Linked DNA regions of Homo sapiens: regions 1, 2 and 3 are each linked to region 4. The links come from fine-mapping of genetic effects on gene expression. A gene starts in region 4. Each other region holds a variant in brackets. All regions are shown on one strand. Distances are from middle to middle.

Region 1 (5,680 bases), 430 kb after region 4:
ACATCATATGCTCCTGTGCTGTTAGAGAAAACAATTTCCATCTTTACATATATTGTTAAAAAAGTAATGGGTTCTTTTTTTTTCTTAAAGTCTAATCCTTCCTTACTTTCTCCTCTCAAATACTGAATCTCCAATCCTTTCAGGTCCAACATAATTTACGTGTTAATTCCTTTCTAAGCTCTTTTCAAGCTACTGCACTTGCCATGCAGATTTCATTAAACCTCATAGTCTCCTCATACTGATGTCTCAGAAAAAAGCAAAGCAACTCTTGCTGTATATTAAAATACGTTGTACAAGAGTGGTATCTTCTGTCCCCATTTCTGGACATATATTTATTTACTTAGCCTTCAGAAAGAAAACAGAAGTCTGTTAACAACTAAAGAGAATGCAAGCACTGGGCTTCTCTTCTCATTTGTGGGAAACATCTGCTGATTATAATTCACAGGGCTCTCATTTCAGGGTTTGCAGTCCTGAGTGGTTTCAGCCTTAAATCATCCTGTGTTGGCAAATAATAGCGAGGGCCAGGCCAGGAAAAAAACAGATGAAGCCGATGTACGGAATGAGATTAAATAAAAGCACAAGCATGCCAATATTCCCATTGCCAATATTTCTTTTTCTAATATATTCACCTTGGAGGCCAATATGTTATTTTAATGATGATGATGTTGAAAACCATTCTGTTCTGGAACTTCTTTAGAATTGATCGGCAGGACCCATCTTGATTTTTTTAAGGGTAAAGTACATTTTAAGAAGTAGTGGCATGTATTAGATGAGTAATCATGTTGGGTCATTCTAGATGGAAACTTTGAAATAGTCACATTTAATACATGTTTAAATACTGAGGCAAAGACCTGGGCCCTCATTCTGACTCTGCCATCTGTTTGATTTGGAATGTTAGAAGTTTTACTTAAGTACTTTAAGCCTTACTTTCTTTTCTGTAAAATGGAAATCATACTTGTGAAACTTTCTGATGATTGACAGAATAAACAGAGTCATCTCTGTCACTTATAAAACTTTAAGTCTTTTGTGTGTCAGTTTGTACTGAGCAACATCAGCATGGAATCCTGGAGTCTTGGAATTCTAGCACTCCAAGAGATAATCCAGTCAAACAGTACCATATTACAGATGAAGAAACTGAGAGCCATAATTGTAGAGGAAGTACCTAGAATGTCAGGGTGACTACTTTGAAAGAAAATGCTTATTTGTCATTTATATTTAGGGTTCTTTTCTTTTAAAAAAAAATCCTCCTTTTACTGAAGTCACACTGATACACTATGAAATTAAATGGAGTTTTTAATAAATGGGACAGCAGTCCTCTTGGGGTTATAGATCAGAATCACATTGTTTATTCTGTTCAGCCCAGAGGAGGAGTGGAAATGTCCAAAGTAGCTGGCGGAATCTGTAAACCTTTTCCCAGAAAGGAAACGCTTTTGCTAGACCTTCTGTATTCTCTGGAGCTTCTTAGTAAACAAAGCGTGTGGTTATTCTTACATCTGCTTCTGGGCTCCTCCAGCCTTTCAGCACAGGTAAGCGAAGAGTGAGGCCATGCGGAGGCCTAAGGCACAGGCTGTACAGGAGAACTGTACAAAGGGGTTGTCGGGGGCAGGGGTGGCGGGCAGGAAGGAAGACTGGAAGTGATGTAAGATGAGGAGGGAGAAGAAGATAGGATGGTATGAGACAAGAAGGAAGTTTCATCCTTGCAGAGTAGAGGAGGGCACCATGATCTATCCTGGCCTGTCTATCTGGGAACATTTTCACGCCACCCATGAGACTTTTCTGCCAACAGGGAAACCCTCATGAACGGGATCCCCTTGTGGCTACTCAGTATAGTATTTTCATAGCCCCTGCTGTTAGAAAGGTCTTACTTATTAGTGTCTGTATGCCACCTTTGAAATCACTTGCTTCATTATCACACTAAAAAAAAAAAAAGCTGGAAAACCCATTTGTTTTGCACACTTTCTATTTTCAAGTGTGTGTGTGTGTGTGTGTGTGTGTGTGTGTGTAATACAGGGCATAAAGATTTCAAAAGGGTGGGTCAATTCTTTGTTGACTAAATTATAGGAAGAAAGTGCAATTATCCAATAGAAGCCAGAAATGTATATAGCTAATTTTATGCCTGCATGTATCTAACCCAGCCATAGTAATTGTAATCACTCTTTGTTTTGCTTTTTTTTTTTTTTTTATTCCAGGGGAAATAGGTTAGGTGGGACCTGAATACATCATTATAAAGTATGCACATATAAATTGAACTTTCCTAAATCTAGGTCACTTGGGTAAGAAGGCTCTTTTGATGAAACCACGTTGACAATTAGATTCACAGAGCACTTCAATGTTAAATGATATTCTTCCCATATTCTGGGTCATAAGGTGGTATAAACAATACACCAACGTTAAGAAATAGAAAATTGCATTCACAGTAATAGTGAAGCTTCATGGTGCATGCTTTTACATTTTAATATGCTGTGTTCTTTCTGCCATGTTAATATTTTAAGTAATATAATTTCCTTTTCATGTAGTTTAATGTTCATCTTTTACTTTTTTTCTCTTTACCCTTCTGGCATAGCTTTCTATAATATTATATCTTATGCCAGGAGAAATTCCTGAAAAATAGAAAGTATAAAGTCAAATAATCCACAGGAAAATGGCAAAAACAACAACAAAAATGGATTTAATCTCCAGTCAAAATGTTATCTTGTATACTTTACAGACTCAATCTGTGTCCCAGGCTTTGATCCAAGCCTCAACATGATGACTGGAATCACCCCCATTAACCCAATGATACCAGGCCTTGGACTGGTACCTCCCCCACCACCAACAGAAGTGGCTGTTGTCAAAGAAATAATCCACTGCAAAAGCTGTACTCTTTTTCCTCAAAATCCAAGTAAGTAAC[G/A]CCTATGAGAAATATTTGCTCATTTTAAATGTTTTTCTTTTTAAATTTTAAAATGGCATTGCAGTCATTTTCAGATGTGACTCACACGTAAATGCACAGAGTGGGGATCCGTTCTACAGAAGGCCTTTTGTCTCTAGGTTACAATAAATATACAGGGATGTGGCCACGTGTCTGTCCAGAAGCTGAATCCACACTATAAAGCCAGTATGTGGGATTTAGGGATGTGTATCCAGCGTTAAGACTTTTTGCATGCAGTGAAGCCTAGTGTTTGCCGGAGAACACAGTGTGAAATATGTGAGCATTTCCATCCATCTTCACAAATGTGGGTGAAAAACTCTGAAATATGTTTTGCTAGATGGAAAATGGAATTAATTTGACAGTTAGCAATTTGGGGGCTGGGGAGAGGGAAGCCTGCATCTCAGAGTTTCTGGACCAAATTGTATTTGCTTGAAGGAAACATACATTTGATGAAGTAAATGGGCCAGAATTTTATTTTTTTAATTTTGCCTCAGATACTAAGTTTATGGGCTAAAAGAGCTAGGACTTTTTTTTTTTTTTGTCATTCATATTAATCAGTGTTGCCTTTTTTAAGTGGACTTTTCAGGAGATTGCTTTAGTAATCTACATATAAACTAGGTAAAATATTGTGAGAGTGTACATTGTATCTTTTTATACAGCCTTCCCAAAATTTAATAGTTTGCTCATTTAAATGTGAATAATAACAAAGTGGTTTTTTTCAGGCCCGGTGTTTCACAGCCAAGTAAGTATTGTGCGTGCTTTTGTAGGTTATGCTTCCCGTATTCTGTTTTGCCGCTCCTTTATCTGGAAACAAGACAAAGCAGATAACACGCTGAGGTTTTTCATCATGTTGTCATTTCGTCATGTTTTGTACTTTGGGAAGTTTTTTCCCTCCCTTTTCTGGGCTTCTGTAGTATAAAGGAGAAATGAAATTATGCAAACATTTGCTTTATCTTTGTTCATGGACAAGCATATAGCCACTCTGTGTAGCAATGAACACAGAAAGTAAAGGTTGGGAGCAGGAGGGGAGAGGAACTTAGAAACAAGACAGCCTGGGATCAATGTTAAGTTGGCATAGAAATTTACCGTCACTCAGTCTGGAGAAAGTTACTCTGCAAGCTTTAGTTTTGCCAGGAGAACCAGAGAAAGCAAATAAATGAAAGATAAAACTTTCTGTTTTGTTGTGATTATTAGATCTTCCACCTCCTTCCACAAGAGAACGACCTCCTGGGTGTAAGACCGTGTTTGTCGGAGGATTACCAGAAAATGCTACTGAGGAAATTATTCAAGAAGTCTTTGAACAGTGCGGTGATATTACAGCAATTCGGAAAAGCAAGAAGAATTTTTGTCACATTCGCTTTGCAGAGGAATTCATGGTTGATAAAGCCATTTACCTTTCTGGTACTTTGCATTACATAAGGAGTTTTCTAGGCATTTTGTTATGTTTTGTGATGTTAATATGAGCTTATTCCCTTTGGCCTTCATGCAAAATAAAGTCTTCATAGTTTGGGGCTGGAAAAGGAGGAATTCTGCCTTCTTCCTTGGCTGCCAGAAGCTCTGCGCTAAGCCTGTGAAGGTACTTCACTGCAGGAGCAATTTCCCACCATCCAGTCTTTAGGAATTCCATCGAGTTTCTAATTAATGTTCTCAAGTGCTTATTAGATGAGAAGCAATATTATGAGTACTAAGGACCATTATTCTTACTGGATGTAATCCTTAGGAGGAGTAAAGTACTCTCTCAGAATAATTTCAGGTTTTTGGAAGTGGATTCACTTTCTGGACACCAAGGTACCAAAGCAAGGTCAGTTCCTTGCAGGAAAGTAGCTTAGGGGCCCTAGGAGAAGGCCCAGTATCATTGCCTCGTTGGTGGTTCATTAAGCCTTGTCCTCTGGTGTCAATTTTTATAGGCGATTTTTACAGATACTGAGATTAGGCCTAGTGCTGCCTTCCCATCTGTGGGTATTGGGCCAAGTGAATGGAGTCTGTCCGCAAGGCCTTTGCCAAACCCAAGAATTAGGGGCTGGCTTTGGAAGGACACATTCTCAGACTGAACTCACTGCCCTTCCCTCACACTCCCCACCTCCATTTTTCAGTCTGTCCCTCTGCATTTCACCTCCCTATTCCTGAGGCAAAGCTGATGGGGGAATGTGGGAAAACAGTAGCGGGTGGGGGTGGGGAGGGGCAGGGGGACCTATCTGAGCATTCCTGCCAGGTTTTACTTAATTTCTGCAGTCCACCTCTATTGCCACGAAATTCTGTGCAAACTCCAGAAGACTTGAGGTTATTCCAATACTGCAGAGACTTTCCTAAGGTAGACAGTGATATGGAGAACTTTAAAACCCCTTATTTCAGTAAAACCTTACAAAGTAGAAAATAAAAACTAAAAGCAATACAAAATGGAGAAGGAAGACAAAGCCTAGAATGAAGACATTTCATAACACACAATCCGCTGTTAGACAACGGGGGTTCTGGTGAGTTTGTGGCACTGGGTTTCACGGCCTAGAGCCTGCCTCCATTTTCTCATCTATAAAATAAAGATAGTAACAGCATGACCTCGTAGGACTGTGAGGAGGAATAAATCAAATAATGGATATTAAGTGCTTAGCAGGGCACCTGCAACATAGAAACCATTCAGGAAATGGTTGTTTTTAACACAAATATCCTGATGATGATAAAGAAGGACGGATTTTTCTATCTCAAGAACCCTATCCTGGGGACCTGGCTTCTAATCACAGCTGTACCAAGAAAACTGCAGTCATCCCTCAGTACACT
Region 2 (5,680 bases), 450 kb after region 4:
ATCACATAAGAAAAGAGAAGGAAAGACACAGGAAGGAGTTGCGTCATTATAGCAAGAAAGCAAACTTGCCCAAAAATCCATCCCCAGCCAACTTCCATGTAGGTTTCATTAGGCAGAATTATTATACCTGGCCATGCCTAACTACAAAGAATGCGAGAAATATAATTTTTGACTGGGCCTGCTGCTCTCCAGAGTAAAATTGGAGTTCTCATAATAAGGCAGGAGTGGAGAATGGCTACTAGGAAGAATTTTGCAGTTTTTGCCATACAGAGTGCTTCCCTTTCTACTTCTACTCTAGTTTGATTTATTTTCACATTCCATCTGATACAAATCAGGTCATGTCTTCCCCAGTAAACCGTTTGAGTATCTCCCCATTGCATTTAGAGAATATTCACTGTCCCTAGCTGACAGAGCTCTCTGTGCTCACTTCTTTAGCTTCAGTTATCCTCAGACTCACCATGCATCATTTCCACTGGCCCCTTTCCCCCTGAGCCCATCAAAACCACCTTCCACCACTCGGCTTTATACGTTCTGTTCCTTCTGCCTGGGGTGCCCTTTCCCATACTCTGTGTGCTTGACTTCTTCTTATCCTATAGGTCTTGGATCAAGAGCCACCTCTTCAGAGAGGTTTTTCTGGTCCACCCTCTTCTAGTAGATTTGCCATCACTGCATCTCTCTCTTTTTTTTTTTTGAGATGGAGTCTCACTCTGTCACCCAGGCTGGAGTACAGTGGTGCAATCTCGGCTCACTGCAACCTCTGCCTCCGGGTTCAAATGATTCTCCTGCCTCAGCCTCCCGAGTAGCTGGGACTACAGGCGCCCGCCACCACGCCCATCTGATTTTTTGTATTTTTAGTAGAGACAGGGTTTCACCATGTTAGCCAGGATGGTCTCGATCTCCTGACCTCGTGATCTGCCCGCCTCGGCCTCCCAAAGTGCTGGGATTACAGGTGTAAGCCACTGTGCCCAGCCCACTGAATCTTTATGAAGGTCCTTTGTAACACTTATCCAAATGAGTAGTGATTTCATGATATGTCTGCTTTTAGTTATTATAGCAGGCATCACAAAGGAAGAGACATCAATATATATCAAGTCATCAATATATATCAAGCCTTATAACATAGAAATATGCAAGAAATATTTGGTGGATGAGTGAGTGAATGAATGAGTAGATCAGAAGACAGGCAGGAGGGAACCCTGAAACAGTGAGTTCAGAAATTTCTGGTGACCTCGTTGAGTAGTTTGGCATTGATATTAGCATCATCTGCAGGAAACAAGGTTTCAACTTGCATGCATAATGAAGCAAATCAGAGAAAAAGCTCAATAGCTGTACTTTTTATTGGAAATTGCCACACTTTACCAAATTCTTGGTCAGAGGCTAGGAAATATTAGGAGAGTTGGGGTGAAAGAATCATCAGAAATTTACGTTGTAGTATCCCCAATTGTAACCATCCAACAACCTCTGTATTTACCATCTGCCTGTTACTATTTGGGAGTCCCCCTTAGCCCTGTAATTTGATTCTGAGAAGTATTTCAGCAGTTGGCAGATATCAACCGAGATTGTGAAAATCCTACAGTGCTGGCCACGGTGTACACATCCCAGCAATGGAGACTCTGAGGAGCCTTCCTGTGAGTCTTTGACAGCCAAGATCTTTCAGGATGACTCGAAGATGGGGGATACCTTAAATGTGAGCCTGGGCTAGAATTAAGCCTGTGAGGCAGAACCAGAAGATTGCATATCTCATTGAGCAACCTCAGAACTTTCCATTCTCTTCTATGTGCTTTTACAAAAAGGGCTGCAAAAAGGAACCCAGTCTGTGAAACTATTAGCAGTAACCTGACTAACATGGTAGGTACATACACATCTCCTCATCCTTTAATCCAAATGCCTCTCCTTTCCTGTCCCGAATTTCCCTCTCTCTAGTGGAGCTATGTTTGTGTCTCAACTGTACTTCTTGCTTTCCACAGCTCTGTTCAGTGTGGTAAGATGTGTTTGATGTCAGGACTTTGGGGATGCTTGTAAAACAATAACTGCTAAAGTCCTCAGTGACTGACACACTTGCTGCATTTTCCAAAAGCAGAACCAGTCACACCCCATTTGTCTGCATTAATATTCCTGGCAAATACCACAGGAATCACATTTTGGCTTCTTCCCTTAGAATGAGATTAGAATTGTTAAGCATGAGTATTCAGGAATTGCACCTCAGCTTTCCTTCTCCCAGGTGGCTGGAAATCTCCTGGTTATTCCATAGCAGCCCCAACTGCTCCCTCTCCACATAAAGGATCTCCTTAGTGTCAGTGCCGAAAGATCTCCCCAGTGTCAATGCCGTCCTTCATGGCATTCCATGGTAGCCTGTCCACTAAACAGCCAAGCATGTTGGGAAATTGTTGTGAGGTGGTTTGGAAGCAGGTGTATTGGCAAACTGGCTAACTAGTGGAGCAGGCCGCAAACAAGCCAAACACGGAGGGCTCACTCCGCAGCTTCTAGGGAAGATCAGGTACATTGCAGAATTCAAAGCATGGTAAAAGCATGTGGGTCCCCTTATGGATTTGGCTGGAAATAACCAATTGGTTGAATAGGACAAGGGAAACTTCAGATGTGATCCATGAGCTGGATTAGATGCACCTATCTCCTTTCTGTGCTTGTGTACTTGTTCTTGCTTTCATTTGGAAAGGATCCATAGGCTCAAATGTTTGGCCTAGATTGCTCTCCAGCCACCGTTCCTGAAGTTCAGTGCTTAACAAAAGTTGTTTGAAAAACGTCACAAGTCATTCATAATAACATAAAGAAAAAGTTGTGATTTATTCAAAGGTCTCCATCAAAGTCCATCAGTTACCCTCTAGCTTTGTTGGTGTTTAGTTCTGCCCGTATTTATGAAAGTTCTAACCTTTTTTATATCTCTGGTCTTCACCCCAGGACCAGCTATTAAATATCAAACAGTCATTGTTTTTAGCAAAGTCTTAGCTTAAAGTGTCAGGGGGCTGTAATTAAACCCAACCCGAGGCCGGGCACGGTGGCTCACGCCTGTAATCCCAGCACTTTGGGAGGCCAAGGCGGGCGGATCACGAGGTCAGGAGATCGAGACCATCCTGGCTAACAC[G/A]GTGAAACCCCGTCTCTACTAAAAATACAAAAAATTAGCCGGGGGCAGTGGCGGGCGCCTGTAGTCCCAGATACTCGGGAGGCTGAGGCAGGAGAATGGCGTGAACCTGGGAGACAGAGCTTGCAGTGAGCCGAGATGGCGCCACTGCACTCCAGCCTGGGTGACAGAGCGAGACTCCATCTCAAAAAAAAAAAAAAAAAAAAAAAAAAACCCAACCTGAATTTTGGGGAGTATGGCATCCATTCACTTCTGTGTAGGGCGATTTTTCTCTTCTGACCATGGATGTCCAGTTATGAAAAATGTTAGATGAGGACATCGTCTATCCTGCTGTGGCACCTGGGGCTTTCTCCTCCCTTCTGGGCCAGCTGGATAGACCTCATTTCCTAGATATAGAAGAAAGAGAAAAAAAAATTCGGAACAGGTAAATCATCTTTGTCATGTCACCTTATCCCGATAGCATCCTAGTCTCATCTTTATGTCATTTCTTAACCCGTCCATTTGCCAGAAACTTCCCCAGGTTTTCCAACTCGGAGACGTTGGAGTTTTTATCTTTGCTTTTTAAAAATGCATACTTCACAGAAACTCCCCATAGGCCTGCCCACTTTCAGTTTCTCAGTTATGAACAAAGCTTGTCATTTCAAAGCTCGTACAGGAGCTGTTTATAAAGTTCAGGAAGCATGGACTACCACATTCAGTTATTAATATGCATGCCAAGATGATAAGTTTTGCATGCCTTTTAACAATTACAACACACACATATCTAATAAAAATTTAAACACTCCATGATATCCCCATTTTGCTACTTTCCCAACATGCTTCCTGGTAAGAGAGAAGGGAACAAACTGGAGAAAAGGCAAATGGGAAAGCCAGCAGCAGTGCAGAAGGGTTGATTAACATTAATTTAAGAATATGTGCCATACATATAATGAGCATGGATAAAAAGCAGAAATTATAGAATGTTAGAGCTAAGAGGGATCTTAAAGGGTTGGGCCAAACCCTGTCATTTTACAGAGGAGGAAACTGAGTCTCAGAGAGCAGACGTGAGAGGCTTTGGTCATTTAGTAGTTTATGGGCAGTTTAGAACCAAGACTCTTGGCTCCTTGTACAGTTTGCTTTCTAAGTGTGTGTGTGTGTATGTGTGTGTGTGTAAAATGAAAATTAAGAATATTATAAATGTAAAGGTACAGCTTATAGGTAGAGTTGAAGAGGTGTGCTGTCATCACACTGAGTATAAATGCTGCTATCTGGCTAAAAAATGAAGTATTTGCTTCTGGCACTACCCTCTTTCCTACCTCCACACATTTGCTTGTGCTGTTTCCTTTGCCTGAACTATTTCCCCTCCTCCAAGTGCCAAAATTGAAGTCCACTTCTATCACATTTCCTCCATGAAACCTTGTTTATCCATTATAACCCATAATCATCTCCCTTTCACCTACCTTCTGCAGCGCTTGTTAATACTATCTACTTGAGGACTTACTTATTTTCTAATTATTTTATGTGCATCAAGTTTATTGGTTTGTTTGCTTGATTTTCCCTCTAGCAAGATTTTAGGCTAAATAGAGACATGAGCCACTTACTGTTCTCTTTTCTACCTCACTGTGCCACTTCTGGACCTGGCATAATTCTTGTAAGCACATAGAAGACCTAAGAAAAAAAATATTGGTTGTTGACCAATCACAGGTGGAAAGGAACGTGGTGCTGAAAATTGGGCTAGAACCTAATATTGCAGAACACAGCCTAAGTGTTTTTTAGTAAACCGTGATCTCAATGATCTTAGCTCTAATATGCCATTCTCTTTAAAGTGGAGCATACGGCATATACTTTAGTTGAGAATTTTACAGTAGGAGTATTAGAGTACCGTTATCAATATCATTTCAACCTGGAGATTGGAAAGGTTAGAACTGTCATGCAACTTTATACATTTGTGATAGGTAATGGCATCAGCCTCATCTTAGGTCTTAAAAGCTGCAAATGGTGGAAAGACTTTTGACAAGGCAGAGAGATCTGGTTCTAATCCAAGTTTGACCACTAATTAGCCTTGTGACTTTGGGAAAGTCTTTTAAGCAACTTCAGTCTCCTTTTTCTCATCTCTGTAATAAAAGGGTTTAACCAGTAATCCCTTAAAGTTCCTTTCCACCCTTAAGATTCCACAGTTCTTATGTCAACCATGTGGATCCTTTATCGTCTCTGGATATCTAAATACAGGTATCTTCCAGGACCCAACCATGAGGTTCAAAGCTCCTAAAGTGATCATAGAACAGGCAATCAGATATTACTCTGTGCAAATGTTCTGCCTATACCTTGCTGTGAAGGTTACTCCTCCTGGGCTACACTGTGAATTTTAAGCCACATTTCAACCCTGAGGTTATGTGCATTGCATTCTGCAGGTGCTGAAGATTGGTCAGAATTATTGTCAAAGACAGCTGCGCAGGGCACTGACAGTTCTCCACTGTCACGCCCTCATCTATCTTCTTGGGTAAAATTGTAAAAGCCTCAAGTGTCTGAATGATTAAATTCATTCCACAAATATTTATCAAGTGTCAAGTTGTGTGCTAAGTGCTAGAGTGAAATGTGAGGGGT
Region 3 (5,680 bases), 28 kb before region 4:
ATATGGGACTATGTGAAAAGACCAAATCTACGTCTGATTGGTGTACCTGAAAGTGACGGGGAGAATGGAACCAAGTTGGAAAACACTCTGCAGGATATTATCCAGGAGAACTTCCCCAATCAAGCAAGGCAGGCCAACATTCAAATTCAGAAAATACAGAGAACGCCACAAAGATACTCCTCGAGAAGAGCAACTCCAAGACACATAATTGTCAGTTTCACCAAAGTTGAAATGAAGGAAAAAAAGTTAGTTGCCTTTTTACATCATTTACTATGTCCTTTGGTGCACGGAATTTTGACATTTTGATGTAGTTCAACTATTTATCTATTTTTCATTGCCTGTGATTTTACATCATATCTAAGAAATCTTTGCTAAATCCAATGTCATGAAGCTTTCCACCATGTTTTTTCTTCTAGTAATTTTATTGTTTTAGCTCTTATGTTTAGATTTTTGATACTTTTTTTTTCAGTCAGAGTCTGGCTCTATCACCCAGGCTGGAGTGCAGTGGCACAATCTCGGCTCACTGCAACTTCTGCCTCCTGGGTTCAAGTGATTCTCCTGCCTCAGCCTCCCAAGTAGCTGGGATTACAGGCATGTGCCACCATGCCTGGCTAATTTTTGTATTTTTAGTGGAGACAGGGTTTCACCATGTTGGCCAGGCTGGTCTCGAACTCCTGACTTCAGGTGATCCACCCACCTTGGCCTCCCAAAGTACTAGAGTTACAGGTGTGAGCCACCATGCCCAGCCCAATATTTGATACATTTTGAGTTGATTTTTGTATGTGGTATAAAAGCAGGGGCCAACTTCATTCTTTTGCAAGTAGATACCCAGTTTTCCCAGCACCATCTGTGGAAGGCTGTTTCTTCCTCATTGTATGGTCTTGGTCCCCTTGTCAAAAATGTTTTGACCATCTATGTGAGAGCTTGTTTCTTGGCATTCTATTCTATCCTGTAGGTCAATGTGGCTGTCTTCATGCCAGAATAATCTTTCGTTTGTGACAGAAGTAGCAATTATTTTCCCCAGCTTGTCATTTGTCTTTTTACTTTTTTATATTACTTTTGCCATGCAAAAGTTGTTTTATTTTTATGTAGTTGAACTGATCAATTGTTTTACTGTTTTTGTATTTTGTGTCATAGTTAGGAAAGTTTTTCTCATACTCAGCTTATTAAGAAATATGTCAATGTTTCCTTCTAGTACATGAATAACACCATGTCAATTTATCTAATAATTGTTATCTTCAATTCTACTACAAAGTGTCCATATAAAAAGAGAAATTGACTCCTTTTAGTGAATCCATAATAAGAAACCAAATTGAAAAACACTGCAAAAAGACTGATGGCCAAGCTCGAACGTAATGTTTTGTTTATAATAATGATGGCAGTGATGATAATGACAGCTATTGTCTGGTGACTTCATAATCAGCACAAGGCACTGTAGGAGATCTTTGCATATACTAAGTACAGAAAAAGAAAAGCACAGCTTTTAAGAGCTTTAACTTCGGATTTACATAAACTTGAGTTCAAATATGTGTTTTATTAGATTTTATTCCAAACTCTCTCACTTACTGGTTGTGTGACTTTGGGCGAGTTTCTTTTGTTCATTAAATCTCATTTTAAAAATCTGTAAAATGGAAATAATAATAGGATTACTTCATGGAGTTGTAAGATTAAATAAGATAATGCATATAAAGCCCTCAGTGATTAGCATTATGTATTTAATACACATTAGCCACTGTTAATCACCAGTTTAGAAATGAAATTACTAAAGTGATGAGAAATTAAATAAAGTCATTTAATTAGTAAGTGTCAGAACTGGAATTCAAACCCAAGCTTTAATCTGTTTTCACTCCAAAGTTCTTACCCCTCTTCTACATCAGTAGAAAGTATTTTTTATATGAATACTGATTTTTAGAAAAGCCTTAGAATAGAGCATACTGGAATGTTAAGGAAACAGCTTTTTTTAAAAAAAAAAATTAGAAACAATGGCTTTATTTATTTATTTATTTATTTAATTTTTCTGAGACAGAGTCTTGCTCTCTCACCCAGGCTGGAGTGCAGTGGCGCAGTCTTGGCTCACTGCAACCTCCTCCTGCTGGGTTCAAGCAATTCTCCTTCCTTAGACTCCTCAGTAGCTGGGATTACCGGCATGTGCCACCACACCCAGTTAATTTTTGTATTTTTAGTAGAGAGGGGGTTTCACCATGTTTGTCAGGCTGATCTCGAACTCCTGACCTCAGGCAATCCGCCTGCCTCGGCCTTCCAAAGTGCTGGGATTACAGGTGTGAGCCACCACGCCTGGCCAGAAACAATGGTATTTACAAAAGAAACTTAGTGTACAAAAACATAGTGCATTACCCCATGATCATTGCCTCTTTGTCCACAATCAAATGGGATGTATTCAAAATTTTTGAGCTGAGAAGTTAGAGAAGAAAAGGACTGAGAACGTGTGGCTAGATTGGGTAATTAAAATCCTATGGCTGATTGTTAAAGCAGAAACCACAGTATGTGTGGTTAAGGAGCAAGTGTATACCAGCAGCATCGGGGCTGGTGGAGGCTGGATCAGGCTAGCCAAGATTAGACAAGCTTTCTGGGGGCCGAACAGGAACCAGGAGAAGCCCTAGAAGGGAGAGAGAGGACTGATAGCAGGGAGCATTTATTCCTCATGACTCATGTTTCCATTAAGGGAAGAAAATGTCAAATCTACTCCCCAGGAATGGAAAATTATGAGAGGAATGCTTTCAGCTT[A/C]TCTCTGATTTTCCTCTTTTCCTAGTAGATGACTGATTTATCTTTTGCAAAGTTGGAAGAACACTTAACCCCTGACTCTCCATAAGCCAGCCTGCAAACCAAGTGCAGAGAGAGTGCATTCTGGGCTGCTGTTGTAGGAGAAAATTCAACTCAGCAAGGCTTTTGACCAAACATCTAAAGACATGTTCCCCAGTTGGCTTTATCAATAATGAAGTTAACATTTTGAGGTTGATTCTTCCAAACATGAGAGGGGGAGAAAGTAGTGTGCAAGGGGTCAACAGGCAGAAGCTGAAGCAGGTGAATATCCAGGTGGCATCAGTATGCTTAAGTAACAGTAATGCAGGCAGAATCCCATCCCAAGGTGAAGCATTTCCACAGACACTCTAAACTGTGAATCTAACTGCACTAGTTGCTTTCTTGTGACTAGATTTAGCCTAGAACCTAAGTGCAAGCTCACCCCCTTACAGGTGGAATTTGAGGCCTTAGGTGTGAGAAATAGAAGGATAATATGCCTCAAACCAAAAGAGTAGAAAAAGGGAAATTACATGTTTATTGCACTTTTGAGAAATGAGATAGTAAATGAAAGGCTAGAAATACAATAATTTAAGAGGGGGATTTTCTAGAGCTTGGGCAATAGGACTGTTGCAGAGCTCATGAAAAGGGTGACACTGAAGATGCAAGAAAATAGAAGGTAATTCATGCAGTAGTCCTGGAAAGCCAGGAGGGGACAGGATCCATACAGAGAGGAAGGCATAGCCTTGGGAAGAAAGAGCATTCCTGAGACAGGATGAGAAAAATAAGAGAACGATCAAAGGCAAAAGAAAATTTTAAAGTGAGGAGGAAGGAAATCAAAGGAGCTCTTGTTTAGATAGAGGGTGAGGATAACAGCTAAGGGTAAAAGCACAGAGCTAGTGCAATTGAGAATGAAATGATGTGAACAGACATAAAGCTACTGGGAAAAAAGGGATTGACATTAATGATCTAAGTAATGCAGATCAGAGTAAATCCATGGTGAGCCCACTGAGCTCAGCTTTGCCATGGTTGTCCAGCAATGTTCTGTTGTCCAGGATTAGGAGGCACTGCAAAAGAATGGTTGGCAATTGAATTAATACATTCAATATGTCAAATGCATTTTAATTTTTCTTTTTTTCTTCTTTCCTCCCTCCCTCTCTCCTTCCCTCCCTCATGCTTTCCTTCCTTTCTTCCTTTATTTGATTTTACTTGTAACTGACTTGAAACTCAAACTTTTCTTTTTTAATGAGTTTGGATTTTTACCACAGGGTCATCATGTTAAACAGTTATTCTCTCAATATGGTAGTAGAGTTGTAAACATAGAAGTTATAAAAGGTAACATACCTGGGAAGTAGCTTGCTTACTTTGTTGGCTTATTTTAAAACCAAATTCAACATCTCAGGTTACAAGTGCAGTATTAATATTTATTGAACACCTAAGAAGTGCTAGACATTTTCTAGGGCACCATACAAACATGTAACTTGATTTAAGAAAGTATTCCAATTGGTATGATTCTGGACCATTTATTCAACAAGTGTACATCTACTAAGGGAATCTCTGCAACATAATGTGCAAGGCATGGTCCTCTCCTTCCTGCCACTAATACCTGAAGCAGATGAAACAGTTCAGCAGCACTGAAAGAGTTAATATAATGAAATACCAAATATGTTTCACAAATTTTCAAGGAGTGAACAAGATGAGCTATCTTTGAGACGATGGGCAGGATATGGATGAAATAGAAAGGAAAGGCTGGGATATTTCAAACCATAGCCTTTGCGTGCTGGAACAACCACGAAACTGAGCACGGGGGTCTAACTATCATGGAGAAGGAATAAAAGAGAATCTTTGAGTCCAAGCTGTATGGAGACTCAGAGGCTGGGTGGGAGTCGGGAAGCAGGGAAACATGTCTCTGAGGATCTACACCATTGGTTCATGTGCTACTCCCTGCGTTGGTTTAGACATGAAATCATAACTATGGCAGGATTCTTTATAAAGTGTCCTATGAATATTATTATTTATAATCATTCCATCATTATAATGCTTTTCAGAACATGAAGTCTTTAAGAATCAGTGTTGTCTGTAATCATTAAAGTAAGTCCCTCTCCAAAGCAATCCTTAGCTGACCAACCCATTAGTCCAAGTTAAACTGGAAACTACTGACTCTGGAGTAAGCCATAAGGCCTTTAAGAGACCTGCAATTATTTCTTTTTTAGCCTGTGAATATGCTAAATAAATATGAAGAAGTGGCAATTTAATTTTTAAAATTTTTCTCTTAAAGGCAGACACTAAGTTGAGATGTTTCTATTGTTTATAGGTATAAATGCTACTAATGGGTTGATGCCATTTTAACATGCCTCTTGAAAGTGAAAAGAAATGGCCTGGTAATTTTTTGTTTTGACAAGTGCTTGAACAAAACCTATCATAATATATCTTATAACCCTCAAAGCTATGGCAGGTCATATGTAAGACCAGACTGACCCTGAATCAGAAAGCCCCCGGACAGTTGGGTGGGTTGTAAGGGATCTCAGGAGACGACTTAGTCCAGATCTACTCACCCCTCCCAAATCCCCTGCTCTTCACACAAAGAGGCTGAATAGTAGCCTGGTCCTGGCTGCCACACTCCTGACCTACACCTCCCAACATACCTAACACTTTGACAGATTCACTCATTCATATAACAAGAACGTACCTGTGGAGAAGAAATTCAGATCCACAGTGAAAAGACAGACATAGTTTCGGCAGTCATGGAGCTTCCAGTTGAGCATGGAAGGCAGATATGTAAGAGCTATTAGGCTAATTATTTAATTATAAATATGGTGAGTTCTCTGCTTCCCCTCTTACACAGCCCACATAAAGCACAGGGAAGAAGGCAAGCATATGCTGTATAAAATATGCTGTGATTCATTTAAGTTACATTCATGTT
Region 4 (5,680 bases):
TTCAATCTTTCTTCCTACGACGTGAGTTAGATTAATAAAAACTCAGGGAAGGCAAGTGCGTTCTTCTTTGGCAGATCTGGTTTCTAGGCAGATGAAAGACCTTCAGAGAACAATTTCATCCTGTGCTTTGGGTGAGACAGACGACTGAGAGACAGGAGGCAGAGAGAGGGTCAGAGAGACTTTGAGGCTGCTTCTTCAGTCCAGCATGTCAAAGTGCCATATTTTCCGGTATTAGTTTCTGAGCCCAACAAAACCCTAAAAGCAACTTTCTAAGGAAAATGAAGCTTTAAAATTGTTTTGGAAAATTCTGACTCATACCCATTCTATAGGTTGGCTGTCAAGGGTCCATTTTCGGTATCAGAGTTTTTCTGCTTCTTTTGCAAGTTTTAGAGCTTCCTTTCAAGTGAGAAATTTAAGTAAGCTTTCAACCTAATAAAAAAGCTCCAATATCACAACAAATGTCTTCTAAGAAGATTGTCAATTGAGTGAAGGTAGATAAATCAGTTAAAGGGACCCCCACTAAAGAACACACGGTACCCAAATAAATCCATTTTAATTTTCACTTTATTTCAGTTATATTTCACAGCTGTGGTATCATGAGTGGAGAGAGAAGCAGCTCATAGGCGGGCCTGAGTTCAAAGGAATTGAAATTTAGCATGAAATGCAAAATTGAAGACTTCTGCTTCTAAGACGATGATTGTAGAAATACCGAGGTCGAAGGATGTGGACTTGGTGCTACACCAGACAGCAGAATTAGCAGTCTGGGGTGACCCTGCATGTATTGGTCAGTGTCCATGAACACTACTCTTTACAGGAGAAAAATGCGTACCTGATAAGCTATTAGAAATGTGTATTTCTGGCCTGGAGCGGTGGCTCATGCCTGTAATCCCAGCACTTTGGGAGGCCGAGGCAGGCGGATCACTTGAGGTCAGGAGTTGGAGACCAGTCTGGAAAACATGGTGAAACTGTGTCTCTACTAAAAACTAAAAACTAAAAAAAAAAAAAAAAAAAAAAAAAAAAAAAAATTAGCCGAGCGTGGTGGCCGGCGCCTGTAATCCTAGCTACTAGGAGGCTGAGGCAGGAGAATTCGCTTGAACCCGGGAGGCAGAGGTTGCAGTGAGCCGAGATCGCGCCACTGCACTCCAGCCTGGGTGACAGAGCGAGGTTCCGTCTCAAAAAACAAAAAACAAAAGTGTATTTCTCTTAAAACTGTTTTCCCCATCCTTCTGCTCTAGAAGGGACAGTATAAACTGCTGGTGAACACTGACTTTCACATTTTGAGAGGTTAGGTTCTGAGCTTTGGCCCCCTCACACCCAGGGCATCCCACTGGGGTCCCTGCAGAGTGCTTCTACATGCATCCTTTGTTAAGGGTGCACAATGGATAAGTATTATTTTCTTTCTTTGCATTGGGGTTCTGACCGCCAGGGGGAAAAATAGCCACACACAAGGAAATGGCATAAGTTAAAATCAGGCAAGCCTAGTGGGGTGGTAATGACTTTCCCAGCATCCAAGTCTTTGCCTTCAGGTTACGTGAAGCTAGAAAACAATGTCATTCATTCAACATTTACAGGGAACTCACAAAGTACAGAGTACTATGCTAAGCACTGGAAGGCATGCAAAAGTGTGCAAAACACAATCCCTGCATTGAGGATTCCTGCCAGAAAGGGTATTTCAAGTATTACCCAGACCTTACGACCCTTGAAGAAATGCTTGTGTGAATAAAATCCCACTCAGAATTTAAAATAAGCAAGGAAAAGTATACTACTAAGACAATATATCTGTTAAGAGGCAGAGAATGTAAATGTGCTTTAAACATTTATTTCTGAAGTATTACAATGTAGTTGGGATGGAGGATCGGGGGATGTGGGTGTGTGTGGGGAGGTGGTGGGAGCGGTTCTTGGACGAGCCTGACTCTAAGGAGGCACTGCTTAGATGCCTGCACAGCTAAGTTGAATCCTAACAAAGAGGAGGCCGGCATTCTTACCTGGGAAGTGGGTAACTTTGAGAAAAAGTAGCCTCCAAGGAGGAAAAAAAGGCAACATGTCACCTGGGGTTAGGATCCCCTCACCCTTACCAACCTGAATGCTGACCGCACCCCGGCCGAGCCACTCTGGGCCGCACACCCCGCATCATCTGCCCAGGCCACGCGGCCCAATTCCACCGTCTACCCCAAGCCCACAATCCTGTAACACGCCCGCTCCAGCCTGGAGTCGGCCACGTGCGCCCGGGTTCTTCTCTTGGCCCTTCAGCGGGCCCGGCCCCTCCAAGGTCGCCGTAGCAACCGTGCGGTCCCTCTCTCGGTTCCCCCGCTCCCAGTAGAGCAGTCCCGACCGCGGCGGCGGTGGCGGGAGCGAGCGGCCTCGGCCCCTCCCGAGAGGGGGCAGCGCGACCGTGGGCTGCGGGCGCCGCCTCTGCTGCATCGGTGGCTGCGCGCTCCGCTCGGCTCTGCCGGGCTGGGATCCGGAGCCCTAGCGCGCCTCGCTGACTTCCCCTCCTCCTCTGCTGCCGCCCCGTGGGCAGCTTCTCCAAGCGAGACACGCGTTCGATCCTCCTTCCCCGCGTTTACGGATTTCCGGGGTCGTAGAATTTTGCCTCGGTCCCTACGAGCATCTCTCGGCCTCTCTCCCCCTCCCCTCGCGACTCCCCCACCCCGTGGGCGCGCGCGCACCCATACACTCACACTCGCAGGCGCGCGTGCGCACGCCCGCGCGCCTCCAGCCGCGGAGTCTCCAGCGCCCCTCAGCAGATCCCCGCTCTCCCGGGCGCCGCTACTCACACAGGCTTCCAGCCGCCACGGGGCGTCCTCTGTCTGCTGCAGCGGCGGCGGCAGCAGAGGGAACGGCGACTGCAGCCCGGCCGCGTCTCCCAGCTCCGTGCCCGGGACAGAGTCCGGGAGAAGCAAAGGAGGAGGAGGACGCCGAGGCTAGGAGGAGCCGCGCCGCGCCCGGCGCCCCACTCCGCGCAGCGGGTTGCCTCCGCTCCCCATACGGCGGCCCCAGGTAAGCAGCTCCGGGGCCCGCAGCCTCCCTGGGGCGTCCGGGCTCCGAGCCGGGGTCCTCTGGTCTCACCCCCGCCACGGCACCTGGATCTAGACTGAGAGGGGAGTGGGCGAGGGGGGAGGGGAGTGGAGCTAGAGGTGAGGCTGGTGAGGAGGGGTGCGTGGACGCGTGGGGGCTTCGGTGCAGCCCCCACGCCCTTCCCCGCCGTGCCCCGTCTCAAGCTCCCTCACTTTTACGCGCCCGGGGGTGCCCAGCGCCCCAGACAGCTGTTCCCCGCTCTCCCCTCCGCCCGCCAGCCAGTGTCAGCTCCGGGCTCCGCGCCCGCCGCGCGCCAGTCACCTCCCCTGCACCTTGGACAGCGCACCCCGCACCCGTCTCCCCCTGCGGGCGTCGCCCCCGGGACCCGTTCCTGCCCACACAGTGTTCCCGCTGCCCTCTTCTTTCAGGTTTTCACCCTCCCGCTCTGCATCCCTTTTCCTCCAGCCTTGGCGGACTCCGCTCTGCTGCGGGCCGGAAACTTTCCTCCCCGCCTAGTCTGCGCTGGGTACTGTTGTTATTCGTGACTGTCCCCTCTCGCGGGGAGCTCGGACACCTTGGACAGGTCTTCGTCGGCGGGAGCGCGCCCTGCCTGGCCCAACGCGAGGTAAAGGAGGCACTGGGGCAGCCGGACTCGGCCGCTGCCAGGGTGCAGAGCCCGCGCCTCGGCCGCTGGACGCCGGCCGCCTCCCCGCCTCTCCGGACCCGACACGTGCGAGCCTCCCACGGACGCGGCCCCTCCCAGACCACCCCACGTCCTCCCCCTGCACGGCCACAGCCACCCCATAGGTTGGACACCCGGGGCTCGCGGGTCCTGATTGGCTGAAGGCGTAACCCCGCCCTCTTTCGGAAGGGGGGTGGTTCTGGAGTGTTGTGGTTGTCATCCCGCGGCGAGCACATGGGGAAAGTGGGGTCGACAGGTGGGCAAGCCCAGCTCTGTGGAATCTCTGCGTCTCACTGTATAGCCACTGAGCCACGCTTCTTCACCCAGATACACTCCTGCTTCTCTCCTTTTCTCTCCCTCAATCTTTCACTGCTGTAACATTACATGAAAAAAACTGGCTTTGTAATCCCAATTTTGTTAAGATTGCATTTGTTTGGTGGTAGCAATTTTTAAAAGCAGACCCAGGAGAATGCAGGAAATACGTGCGTATGGAAAGGTTCCTGGCCAACTGGGCTGCAGATTTGAGTCTGGTAGTTTGGAGAAAGCAATGAAGCGTGCTTAAGGGATCTGAAGAGGGTGGAGAAAGTGGGAAGGAAATTGATTCCTGGAGGAGAGACGCAGGTGAGCGAGCTTGGAAAGCTGAGCTGGTGGGCCCGCTCGAGAGGTGGGTGCGTGCTGTTGGAGACGGCTCTGTCAAGCAAAGTGGTAATATTGGCTGGTACTTAGTTTATGGTTAACACACTCTGCTTTTGTTTTACTAGCGTTGCCACTTTGATAGAGACTTTATATTAATAATGTCTATTCATGTAATGGATATTGCTCATTCCAGTTTCTTGTAATATACAGATTTGAAAGTGATAATGAGTTTGAAAAAGTGAAAGCCCTCTTGGAGGAGATGCGTTAAACAGTTAAAGTGCTTTCGGAATATTGTGAGGGAAGACGGATGAGCATTGCATAAAATGCATATTGTTCTGGCATTATTTAGAGCCTTTGAAGAAATATATGTGTACGTATAAATGATACTGATTTCTCTTCATTTCAAAGCGTGATTGCCTCTAGCATTTTCCAGCTTTAATTCCTTCAGGCTGTTTTGATGTTGTGTCTGTACATCTAAGAATATTGTAATTCTTATCTTTAGAAGCCTTGTCAATGTGAAACAAACAGCAACTGATGCAAGTTAATGTTGACAACTTTATATTGAGTACACTGTGTGTTATTTTATTTGTAAGCTAGTGAAATATGCAAGAGTAACATAGCATGACTGTTGTTCCCCAGGGACCCATATCAAAACAAAGTGGGGAATCACATGAGGCTATTCCATGGAGAACAATTCAATTATTTTTAAGATGAATAAAATTTAAGATTCTTGGTTGTAAACAGCAACACTCTTTGAATTATCTTTGTACACATTGGTAGCATATGATAGTAAATCAACATATTAAACGTATTACATGATTCTAAAGTAGATGGTAAAGGCTTTCCATTATTATCATTTTTATATAAGTAGACAGGATTGCTTTTCTGACTGGAGGACCTCCTATTCAAGAAACAGGATTTGATATATGTGACAAATTGGAAATTATTGCTATTGTTAAGAAAATAATTCTGTGTTTTTATTTCTCTAGTTCATACCTTGATTTCCCTAAGGGATTTAGTTTCAAGTTGTGGGCCTATTAAATTTAGATGGGTTTGTATGTAGGAGAATGTATATAATCACATATGCATACATGCAAAATATTTGTATGTCTATCAGCACACAGTTGTATATTTATACACGTAATTTTAGGGTACATTCAGTGTATTTATTCGTATATATGTTATTGTCATCCTTAGAATTTTTTCTCATTTCTTTTTGTCCAAAAGGTGGCCCTGTTTTAAACTGTAGAAAGCATTATCACCAGTAGAATTGGCCAATAGATCATGGAAACAGACAATAGTATTTTGTTGCCTGGCAACCACCTACTGTGAATGAAAAACAAA

Alleles and levels. Alleles are on the strand shown, and positions count from the first base shown. SD is a standard deviation of normalised expression in the study named.
With allele G in place of A in region 1, the expression in tibial nerve of the gene that starts at base 2,680 in region 4 is higher (small effect, 0.27 SD a copy in GTEx).
For the expression in pancreas of the gene that starts at base 2,680 in region 4, allele A in region 2 goes with a higher level than allele G (moderate effect, 0.42 SD a copy in GTEx).
As copies of C replace A in region 3, the expression in atrial appendage of the gene that starts at base 2,680 in region 4 goes down (moderate effect, 0.57 SD a copy in GTEx).

Evidence for each region.
Region 1: its variant is fine-mapped to the expression of ENOX1 in tibial nerve (GTEx, PIP above 0.99).
Region 2: its variant is fine-mapped to the expression of ENOX1 in pancreas (GTEx, PIP above 0.99).
Region 3: its variant is fine-mapped to the expression of ENOX1 in atrial appendage (GTEx, PIP above 0.99). The same link has a PIP of 0.9 or more in left ventricle.

Annotation. Positions count from the first base shown.
Region 1 is chr13:43,358,480-43,364,159 of GRCh38, reverse strand. ENOX1 (ecto-NOX disulfide-thiol exchanger 1) reads left to right here. Exons shown (of 17, transcript NM_001347969.2): 6 at 2,708-2,881; 7 at 4,103-4,309. Among named protein-coding and RNA genes, the nearest start is that of ENOX1-AS2, 88 kb to the left of the region's middle. RefSeq lists an enhancer at 4,064-4,649. The variant G/A (reference allele first, on the strand shown) is at 2,891.
Region 2 is chr13:43,336,307-43,341,986 of GRCh38, reverse strand. All of the region lies in intron 9 of ENOX1 (ecto-NOX disulfide-thiol exchanger 1), which reads left to right. Among named protein-coding and RNA genes, the nearest start is that of ENOX1-AS2, 110 kb to the left of the region's middle. The variant G/A (reference allele first, on the strand shown) is at 3,101.
Region 3 is chr13:43,812,409-43,818,088 of GRCh38, reverse strand. LOC124903166 (a long non-coding RNA gene) reads right to left here. Exons shown (of 3, transcript XR_007063773.1): 2 at 5,447-5,507; 3 at 3,273-3,824. Among named protein-coding and RNA genes, the nearest start is that of ENOX1, 28 kb to the right of the region's middle. The variant A/C (reference allele first, on the strand shown) is at 2,746.
Region 4 is chr13:43,783,972-43,789,651 of GRCh38, reverse strand. ENOX1 (ecto-NOX disulfide-thiol exchanger 1) reads left to right here and starts at 2,680. Exons shown (of 17, transcript NM_001347969.2): 1 at 2,680-3,000. RefSeq lists a silencer at 5,505-5,680.